3 separate regions of the Homo sapiens genome follow, and regions 1 and 2 are each linked to region 3. The links come from fine-mapping of genetic effects on gene expression. A gene starts in region 3. Each other region holds a variant in brackets. All regions are shown on one strand. Distances are between the middles of the regions.

The links. PIP is the estimated chance that this variant, and not a neighbour inherited with it, causes the effect.
Region 1: its variant is the best candidate, but not a certain one, in a credible set for the expression of CYBA in whole blood (INTERVAL, PIP 0.88).
Region 2: its variant is the best candidate, but not a certain one, in a credible set for the expression of CYBA in pancreas (GTEx, PIP 0.69).

The regions. Positions count from the first base shown.
Region 1 is chr16:88,594,236-88,597,030 of GRCh38, forward strand. All of the region lies in intron 3 of ZC3H18 (zinc finger CCCH-type containing 18), which reads left to right. Among named protein-coding and RNA genes, the nearest start is that of ZC3H18, 25 kb to the left of the region's middle. The variant T/C (reference allele first, on the strand shown) is at 1,245.
Region 2 is chr16:88,614,659-88,617,453 of GRCh38, forward strand. All of the region lies in intron 8 of ZC3H18 (zinc finger CCCH-type containing 18), which reads left to right. Among named protein-coding and RNA genes, the nearest start is that of IL17C, 23 kb to the right of the region's middle. The variant C/T (reference allele first, on the strand shown) is at 1,524.
Region 3 is chr16:88,649,678-88,652,323 of GRCh38, forward strand. It overlaps CYBA (cytochrome b-245 alpha chain), which reads right to left and starts at 1,376. Exons shown (of 6, transcript NM_000101.4): 1 at 1,279-1,376. The coding sequence starts at 1,336. It overlaps MVD (mevalonate diphosphate decarboxylase), which reads right to left. Exons shown (of 10, transcript NM_002461.3): 10 at 2,263-2,646. RefSeq lists enhancers at 1-609, 610-1,503, 1,504-2,398, 1,826-1,975 and silencers at 986-1,135, 1,286-1,565.

The DNA of each region.
Region 1 (2,795 bases), 55 kb before region 3:
ATTTTAAAAACAGTTTCATAAATATTTGTTACTATATATTGGATATCTTGTTATTGTTAAATAATGAGATATCTTTAAGTGTCTCTTAATTTCTAATATCGTACGTATCAATAGAAATGACACATATAAACCAAGTAAACACAGGGAATTGATATTTACTGTATTCAAAATCAGAAGAGACATTTAAAGATACTTCATGTGTGGGCTGTGCTGGAGCATGAGCTGAGCCTCAGTTCCTGCCACCTCTGTGTTTAGTTTCCGGATTTTCCATGTTTCCTATCTGTTTCCTGTCTGTTTCCCTGATCCAGTTTGGGTTGGTTGCTACTGAGCATGCAGGTTCCCTTTCTGTAGTTACATTGTTTAGTGAAAAAAAGCAAGGTTCAGCACAGAGCATAATATATATGCTCAGGTAAAAGGGGGCAATGATTGATGGATGGAGCCCCAGTATATTGATAACTGCCTCTGGGAATGGCCCTGGAGGCATGGGATAGGTGGTCAACTTCACAGTGTACCTTTTAGAGTGGGTGGGTATTTTTTATTTACAAGTATTTCATTTGATTATGAAATATTTCATATATATAAAATAATACAGTGTTTACACAAGCGTAAAGATTAATAAGAGAATAAAACAGTTGGCTGGGCGTGGTGGTTCATGCCTGTAATCCCAGCACTTTGGGAGGCCGAGGCGGGCGGATCACCTGAGGTCGCAAGCTCAAGACTAGCCTGACCAACATGGAGAAACCTCGTTTCTACTAAAAATACAAAATTAGCCAGGCGTGGTGGTGCATGCCTGTAATTCCAGCTACTCGGGAGGCTGAGGCAGGAGAATCACTTGAACCTGGGAGGCGGAGGTTGCAGTGAGCTGAGATTGTGCCATTGCACTCCAGCCTGGGCAACAAGAACAAAACTCCATCTCAAAAAAACAAAAACAAAACAAAAGAAAAACCAGTTGCTGCTGTGCCGACATTCCAGTTAAGAAAAAGACCATCATCCTGTCTTGAAGCCAGAAATAGTACTTAGACATTTCAGCAGTGGAGGGGCCGCCTCCGCCCCGCTCCAGCGGCCTCTGTCCCTCCTTGTCCTCTTCTGGCCTGAGGCCATGTCTGTGTACACAGTATCCGCAGAACTATCTTTATACTGTTAGAATCACAATCCACATAAATTTTGGGTTTGAAGTCCCATTTGTAAACCAGAAGATCTTTATTGTTGCTTCTATTTTCTGGATAATTTCTTTCTTTCTTTTT[T/C]TTTTTTTTTTTTTTAACAAATTGCTTTTTAAATTATGAAAGTAAGGCTGGGGACGGTAGCTGACACCTGTAATCCCAGCTCTTTGGGAGGCCGAGGTGGGCGGATCACCTGACTTCAGGAGTTTGAGACCAGCCTGGCTAACATGGCGAAACCCTGTCACTACTAAAAATACAAAAATTAGCCGGGCTTGGTGGTGCACACCTGTAATCCCAGCTACTCGGGAGGCTGAGGCAGGAGAGTTGCTTGAACTGTGAGGCAGAGGTTGCAATGAGCCTAGGTCGCTCCACTGCACTCCAGCCTGGGCAACAGAGCGAGACTCCATCTCAAAAAAAAAAAAATTAAAAAAAGGAAAGAAAGTAATATGGGCTGGCAGAAGGCAAGAAAATAAAATCTAAAGCCCCTTCCCACATTCCCGACAGTTGGGTGTGTTCCTACACAGATAAAAGTTCACATTTTAAAAAGATAGATGGGACAATGGTGTTCTTTCTGCCTGACGTCTGCTGGAAGTGTGTCCCAGCTAGACGTGCAGACCAACTGTGCTGCTTTCCAGAGCCATCTTCCCCTTTACTCTGGCCAGGGGCAGGACAGCGCTCAGCACCCCCGGGCAGGTGGCTCCCGAGAGCTGAACACTGTCACCCACTAGTGTCTGGTCTCTAGTGGCAGCCCCACGCTCGCCTTCTCAGCTTGCTCTTTGGCGCTCACTGGTTTGTTCTCTTCTGCCTTGTTCCTCTTTTCTCCCCATGCCAATATCAGTGAGAAAGGATCTTTTTTGATAGTAGGTTCGTAGGTGATGTCCTAAAAATTTTCATAAATACAGAAAAGAACGATAACATTTAGCCACCACCCAGATACATATTTTAGATGAAAAAGAAGTACAGAGGCCGAGTGTGGTGGTTCACGCCTGTAATCCCAGCACTTTGGGAGGCCGAGGCTGGCAGATCACAAGGTCAGGAGTTCGAGACCAGCCTGACCAAGTTGGTGAAGTCCCGTCTCTACTAAAAATACAAAAATTAGCCTGGCATGGTGGTACCCGCCTGTAATCCCAGCTACTCAGGAGGCTGAGGCAGGAGAATCACTGACACCCAGGAGGTGGAGGTTGCAGTGAGCCGAGATTGCATCATTGCACTCCAGCCTGGGACTGTCTCACTCAGTCAGAGTGAGACTCCATCTGAAAAAAAAAGGAAAAGGAGTACAGAAAAGCTGTGGTTTCTATTGTCAGCACTTTTCTGTACTTGGACATTTTTTACAATGAGCTTTTGTTACTTGTTTAGTTACACACGTGATTTTGAATACTGCATGAGTATTTTCAGAGGCAAACCATGAAGAGCTCTGTAGTGTGTTGAGTCTCAGATGGATGACTGCATAGTCAGTTTTTCTTTAAATCTCTCTGAGGCTCTGGATTTTTGAACCCCCTATAGAATAACATTTCCCAACCTCTTTTGTTTTTTGTTGTTGTTTTTGAGAGAGACTCGCTCTGTTGCCCAGGCTGGAGTGCAGTGGCACGATCTCGGCTCACTGCAAGCTCCACCTCCTGGGTTCACGCCATTCTC
Region 2 (2,795 bases), 35 kb before region 3:
AATCCTTTTATGTTACAGTAATCTCTAAGTTATTTTGAAGTTTACATGGTCATCCAAACGGGGAAACCGTCATTGACCTTGACATTGTGCCGCCTTCTTCAGCCTTTCAAGCCCTTTTGGATAGAAGCCCTTCCCCTACAGCACACACAGTATTTTCAGTGTGCACTCAGCCTAAGGCTGCCTTCTCCCCTGAGACCCCACTGCAAAGGTGCAGCCCAGCACCCCGTGCACACACCCCCAGCCGCTCCCTCTGCCCAGATGGGCTGCCCCCATTTCCTCCATTCCGTCTGCCTGGACGGGCTGCCCCACCTCCTGTTCCCTCTGCCCAGATGGGCTGCCCCCACCTCCTCCATTCCCTCTGCGTTTGACAGGCTGCCCCCACCTGCTCCGTTCCCTCTGCCTGGACGGGCTGCCCCCACCTGCTCCGTTCCCTCTGCCTGGACGGGCTGCCCCCACCTGCTCCGTTCCCTCTGCCTGGACGGGCTGCCCCCACCTCCTCCATTCCCTCTGCCTTTGACAGGCTGCCCCCACCTCCTCCGTTCCCTCTGCCTTTGACAGGCTGCCCCCACCTCCTCCGTTCCCTCTGCCCGGACGGGCTGCCTCTACCTCCTCCAGGGTTTTGCTCAGATTCCTCTGCACAGGGAAGTCTCCCCATCCCCTCCTGCTTGCCAGCCTGCTTTCTTGTTCCTCATGGCCCTCAGTGCCCATCTGGAGCCCTTGCAGCAGATGGTCCTGGGGCACCACCGTCTGCCCTGCTCCCCGTTGCAGCCTCTGTGCCTGTCCCAGAGTCCCGCACAGGTTGGTGCTTACCCACATTTGGGGGTGCTGTCCGTGAGTTTTGGATTTGGTATCAGCCTGCATTTTTACCTGCATGTCATAATTGATTGTTACAGGGTTGCTAAAATTGCACATTGATTTCTACAAACAGAACCAGCTGAGTCTGCTTTCCAGATTCACAAAATAGGGGTTTTCACGCCACCCAGATCATTGGTTTTAGAAGCAGAGACATAGAAAGGCAGTGATATCCACGTGGAAGGTCACTGTGCTGTGTGGCTCTGGGTTTATGAGTCCGTCAGCATGTCCACTTTGGTGGCTTATGGGCACACGTGCCTGGCCACAGACCCCCTTCCCCAGCCCCTAGTCATGTATTCTGCCTGTTTCTAAGCAGCCGGGGGCTCTTCCCAGTCAGGAGTCTGTAATTCCAACTCAGGGATGTTTTCTGTGTACAAGAATGTACTTCTGGAGTACGCGTTAGAGGGCCGCCATGCCTAAGGTTGCTGTGTTCCTCTGCTGTGGCCCGCACTTTAGTGACCCGCGGAATGGGAGGGCAGATTCCCGACTGCTGTGCCCGTCTCCTGTGTGCTCAGCCTCCCCAGAGGAAAGCGGGTGACGGATCCCAGGAGGCTTGGAGAGGGTAACTCTGCCAGCATGGCCACCAGGCAGCAGGTTGCCATCGCCAGCCCCTGAGCCCTCAGCTTCACAGAGGAGTCTTACATTCAGGAAGGGACTGGGAGGTGCTCAGA[C/T]GTTGTCTGGCCTGATCTGGGCTCACAGCTAGGGTTCAGGAAACTCTGTACTAAATGAGTTTTTCTTAAAATCAAACACAGCTGCTCTCACCAAACTGGGCCGAGCCGCTCTTCCCACCTGTTTCTGACCTGGTTCATTTCCCTTCTGCGAGGCTCACGTCCCTTTCTTTCCTTCCTGAAGCACTTGCTTGTGCTCCTGGGGCTGCCCTCAGCCCCTTCTCGGAGCTGCCAGCAGCAGGGCTGACGTTCTCTGCGTCGCTTGCCTGGATTCATTCAGCCGGCTTCCGGGTGCTGGGGAGTCCCCGGTCTTGGCTTCACTCACCTTTGCGGGAGCCCTGCCAGGCCCGCTACCTGCCTGGAGGACAAGGGTTTCCCCAGCGCAGAATTTCCAGCCAGTGCTCCTGCTTCCTTCTCCCTTATCAGCCAGAACTGGCCTGGCTGCCTTTTCAGGAGCAGCTGAATTCCCTTTGCAGTAATACACGTATTGAATGGGTGGGTCTTTGGCAGGTTGGGAGTTTGTAATCATTAGGTGGATAGAAAGAACTTTTCTCACCTAAACTGGAAGAAAATGACACAGTTTTACCCAGGGAGATCCATTTGGGAAGATTCTGCCTTCAGCTACCAAGCAGAACACGAATGAGGGGCTCTGCAGTGTCCAGCACGGCTGCACCAGGGCTAGGCCTTGCATGGGGGCTACACCCTAGTGAAGCGCAGTCACTTTTGTTTGGTCTGAAGCGCGGCCCAGGCTCGTTATAGCAGGCACTTCACCACCCCAAGCTTCACGAGAGGGGGCACAGTCGTGCAGCGGGAGGAGCGAGAGTCGGCCACTGTTTGGGTGCCATGGGTGTCCTGGGTAGAGTTGAGGGCCTCCCCCGGGAAGGATAATGCTGAGCCCCAATAGGAAACACTGCCCTGAGCTATCTGATGGCCAGCCCTCTGTCCATGGGGGAGCCATTTCTTTTCCTTATCTCTAAGCTAATACCCCTCTTTCCTGAGGTTCTCTCTTACTGCCTAAGCTGTTTGGCTCTGGGAGTTACTGGCTAGCTTGTCCCCGTCGGGATCTCATCCCCATCGGTATCTCTGGCAGGGCTTCTTGACCAGCTCCCCCCTGGACCTGCGGCTGGAGACGGAGTTGTGCCGCTCTCTCCGTCCTAGTTTGCCTTTTGAGGCTTACCCACTCCTCCACCTGGGCTGTTTTAAAATGATTAGAGCAGAACCTTTCAATCAATTCTATCAAATGCATCTGTAGAGCTAAGGGGGCGGTCCCTTATG
Region 3 (2,646 bases):
GCACGCTCAGGAGATCTAGGAACAGAAAGGAAGCACGGCAGCTGGAGGAGGGGGCCGGAGAGCCGGGAGGCCAGGGCGGGCAGTGCAGGGCGTCCAGTCTGGCTCTAACTCTTCGGGCCAGGAGCCCCTGGAGGGTTTCAGCAGGAGGCCAGACTAGAGCCCAGGTCTCCTGGCTCCCAGCTGGGTGCCCTCAGTCCGTCTACTTCCTGTAGGGAGTGCGGGGCAGGCAGGGTGAGTCTCACGGGGCAGCTCTGGGGAGAGCTGTCTGAACTGACCCACCGACTTCTTGGCCGCTGACTCGAAGCAGGCGGTCACTTTCCTGGGCACAGGACAGGCTGCAGGGCCCCGTCCTCCAGCCCTCCCACCCTGAGGTCTCTGCTCCCACTCCAGCTGCCACGCACCCTCCAGACAACAGGGAGGGCGCTCAGAGCCCCAGGGGAGTGGTGGCAGCGGGCCCCTCCTCCTCACCCTCAGCCCCCAGGCCCTTCCCAGGCACTCCTCCCCCGGTGCAGGTCCTTCCTGGAGCTGCTGCAGTGGTGCCTCTGCCCTCAGACCTCGCCTGAGCCCAGCCTCACCCGTGCTGGGCCAGACACTCCCTGGCCCTGGTCCCGAGAGGGTCCATTTCCAAATGGAGTCCGCTGCCCTCACCAGAACCTCTGAGCAAATGCACAGGAGGGTGACTGGGGGCTGTGCCATCCCACCCCAAGAGCAAAGTGCCTGTGCAGCTGGGCTGGGCAGGGCCGTCACTGGGTGGTTTCGGCGCCTTGTGAAATCTCAGACCGCCTCCAGCGCAGACTCCAGATGAGAAGGGCTGAGCCCCAGGGCATGAGCCCATTCCCCACCCCAAGCCCAGGGAGAGCGACCTCCAGGCCAGCTGGCTACCGAGGGGCAGGGGAGCTTCTCCCGATGCCCAGGCCGGAGCCCCCACTCGGGGGCTTCGGGGCGGTGACCCCGGAAACCACCGGGGCTGAACCGCCTCTTCCCCTGCGCTGCAACTTCCTCCTTCGCGGAGTCGGGGGACCGAGAGAAGGGAATGGGGGAGGGGCGCCGCGCTCCGCAGGGTCTGCAAGGGAATTACTGGGGGTCTCAGAACTCCTCCTTCCAGCCCGCGGCCTGAGGGTCCCGCCCCCGTTCCCCGCACCCTCCTGGCCTGACCCCGGCCCGGCCTGGCCCGCCTGGCGCCCCACTTCCCCACCCTGTAAGTAGCCCGAGGTCCCGGCTGGGGTCTTGGGACACCCCTCCAGGCTGCAGCCTCCACCGTCCCTGACGTGCACTCACTCAGGCCGGACGCCAGCGCCTGTTCGTTGGCCCACATGGCCCACTCGATCTGCCCCATGGCGACACGAACCCGGCTGGGACACTGCTAGGCGCGCACTGCCGCCCCTGCGCTCCCGGCCGAACCCCGCCCCGCCCAGGCCCCGCCCCCAGCCCCCCAGGTGACCGCGGCTGGGCGGAGACCCGCATCTGTAGGGTGCAGGGCTGTCCCGGAGCCTTCTGCCCCCGCCCTCTCTAGCCACGCCGAGGCATAGGAGGGGCCCTGCCCGGCAGCCCCAGCCCAGGCGGGGAGTTCCTGCGCTTCCCCAGGGCTTCCCAAACTTCAGCTCTCAAACACTGACAAGTGCCCCTGCCCAATGCTCCGGACCCAACCGAGGGTCCCGTGTCAACCAGGCGTCTATTAATAGCAGGACAAGGTGTGAAGGTCGGCTTCCTGAGCAAATCGGCCTCTCCAGAGCCTTGGGGGGTGGGGGAGTCACCCCTACAGCCCGGGAACACCTCTGCACCCTGATGCTACCAAGGACAAGGGTGGCCTCCCCATGGGGACCAGAGGCCCAGCCCCCATTTCCTCCCCCTGGCTCTGGGCTGGCACAGGCGTGGCCTGGGTCAGACACTGCAGGGGGCCTCCCGTCACCAGGTCACTGAACTGTGACTGAGACTCGAGGGAGGGGACAGGATGTGTACAACTGGGAAAGCACAGAATGCAGGGACGGCCCCGTCACGTCCGGCCTGGGTACGGGAGGCAGGGGCTGGCGTGGGGGTGGTGAGCCCAGCGCCCATGGGAAGACTTTAGACCTGGGGTTGCTCCTGAGGGTCCCACCTGAGCCAATGTGGGGTTTGAGGGGAGCCCCTCTGTGGCTCTGCCCAGCCTGCCCCTCCCCCAGGCCCTCATGGGGCACACCTGGACTCCCTGACAGGTGCCAGGGTCACTCAGAGCAGGAACCCCGGGATGCTGGTTTACGAAACAGAAAAACGGCGGAGGCCGGAGGCAGCAATGCTGGTTTATTCCCCATGGCCACCGGGGCCGCACTGGTGCCCACTCCTGCCACCATTCCAGCCACACCCAGGCCGTGGGCAGCCACCCTCCGAGACACCTGGGCCGGGGGCAGGGTCTCAGCAGAAGCGCCGTGGGCAGCCACCATCCGAGGCACTTGGTGGTTTCCTGAGGCCCAAGGAGGCTGCTCCCAGCACGGTGACCCCTTCCCTGGTCCGCTGGAGGGACCACCTCCCCACTGAGCTCCTTTCTCAGAGAACTGGGCATAGCCAGAGCTGGGGTGAGAAAGCCCTTCAGCCCTGCTGCACCGAGGCTCTGCCAGTTCTCATACCCCCTCCCCATCCCATCTTGGCAAAGCGCTGGTGCAGCTTAGGGCA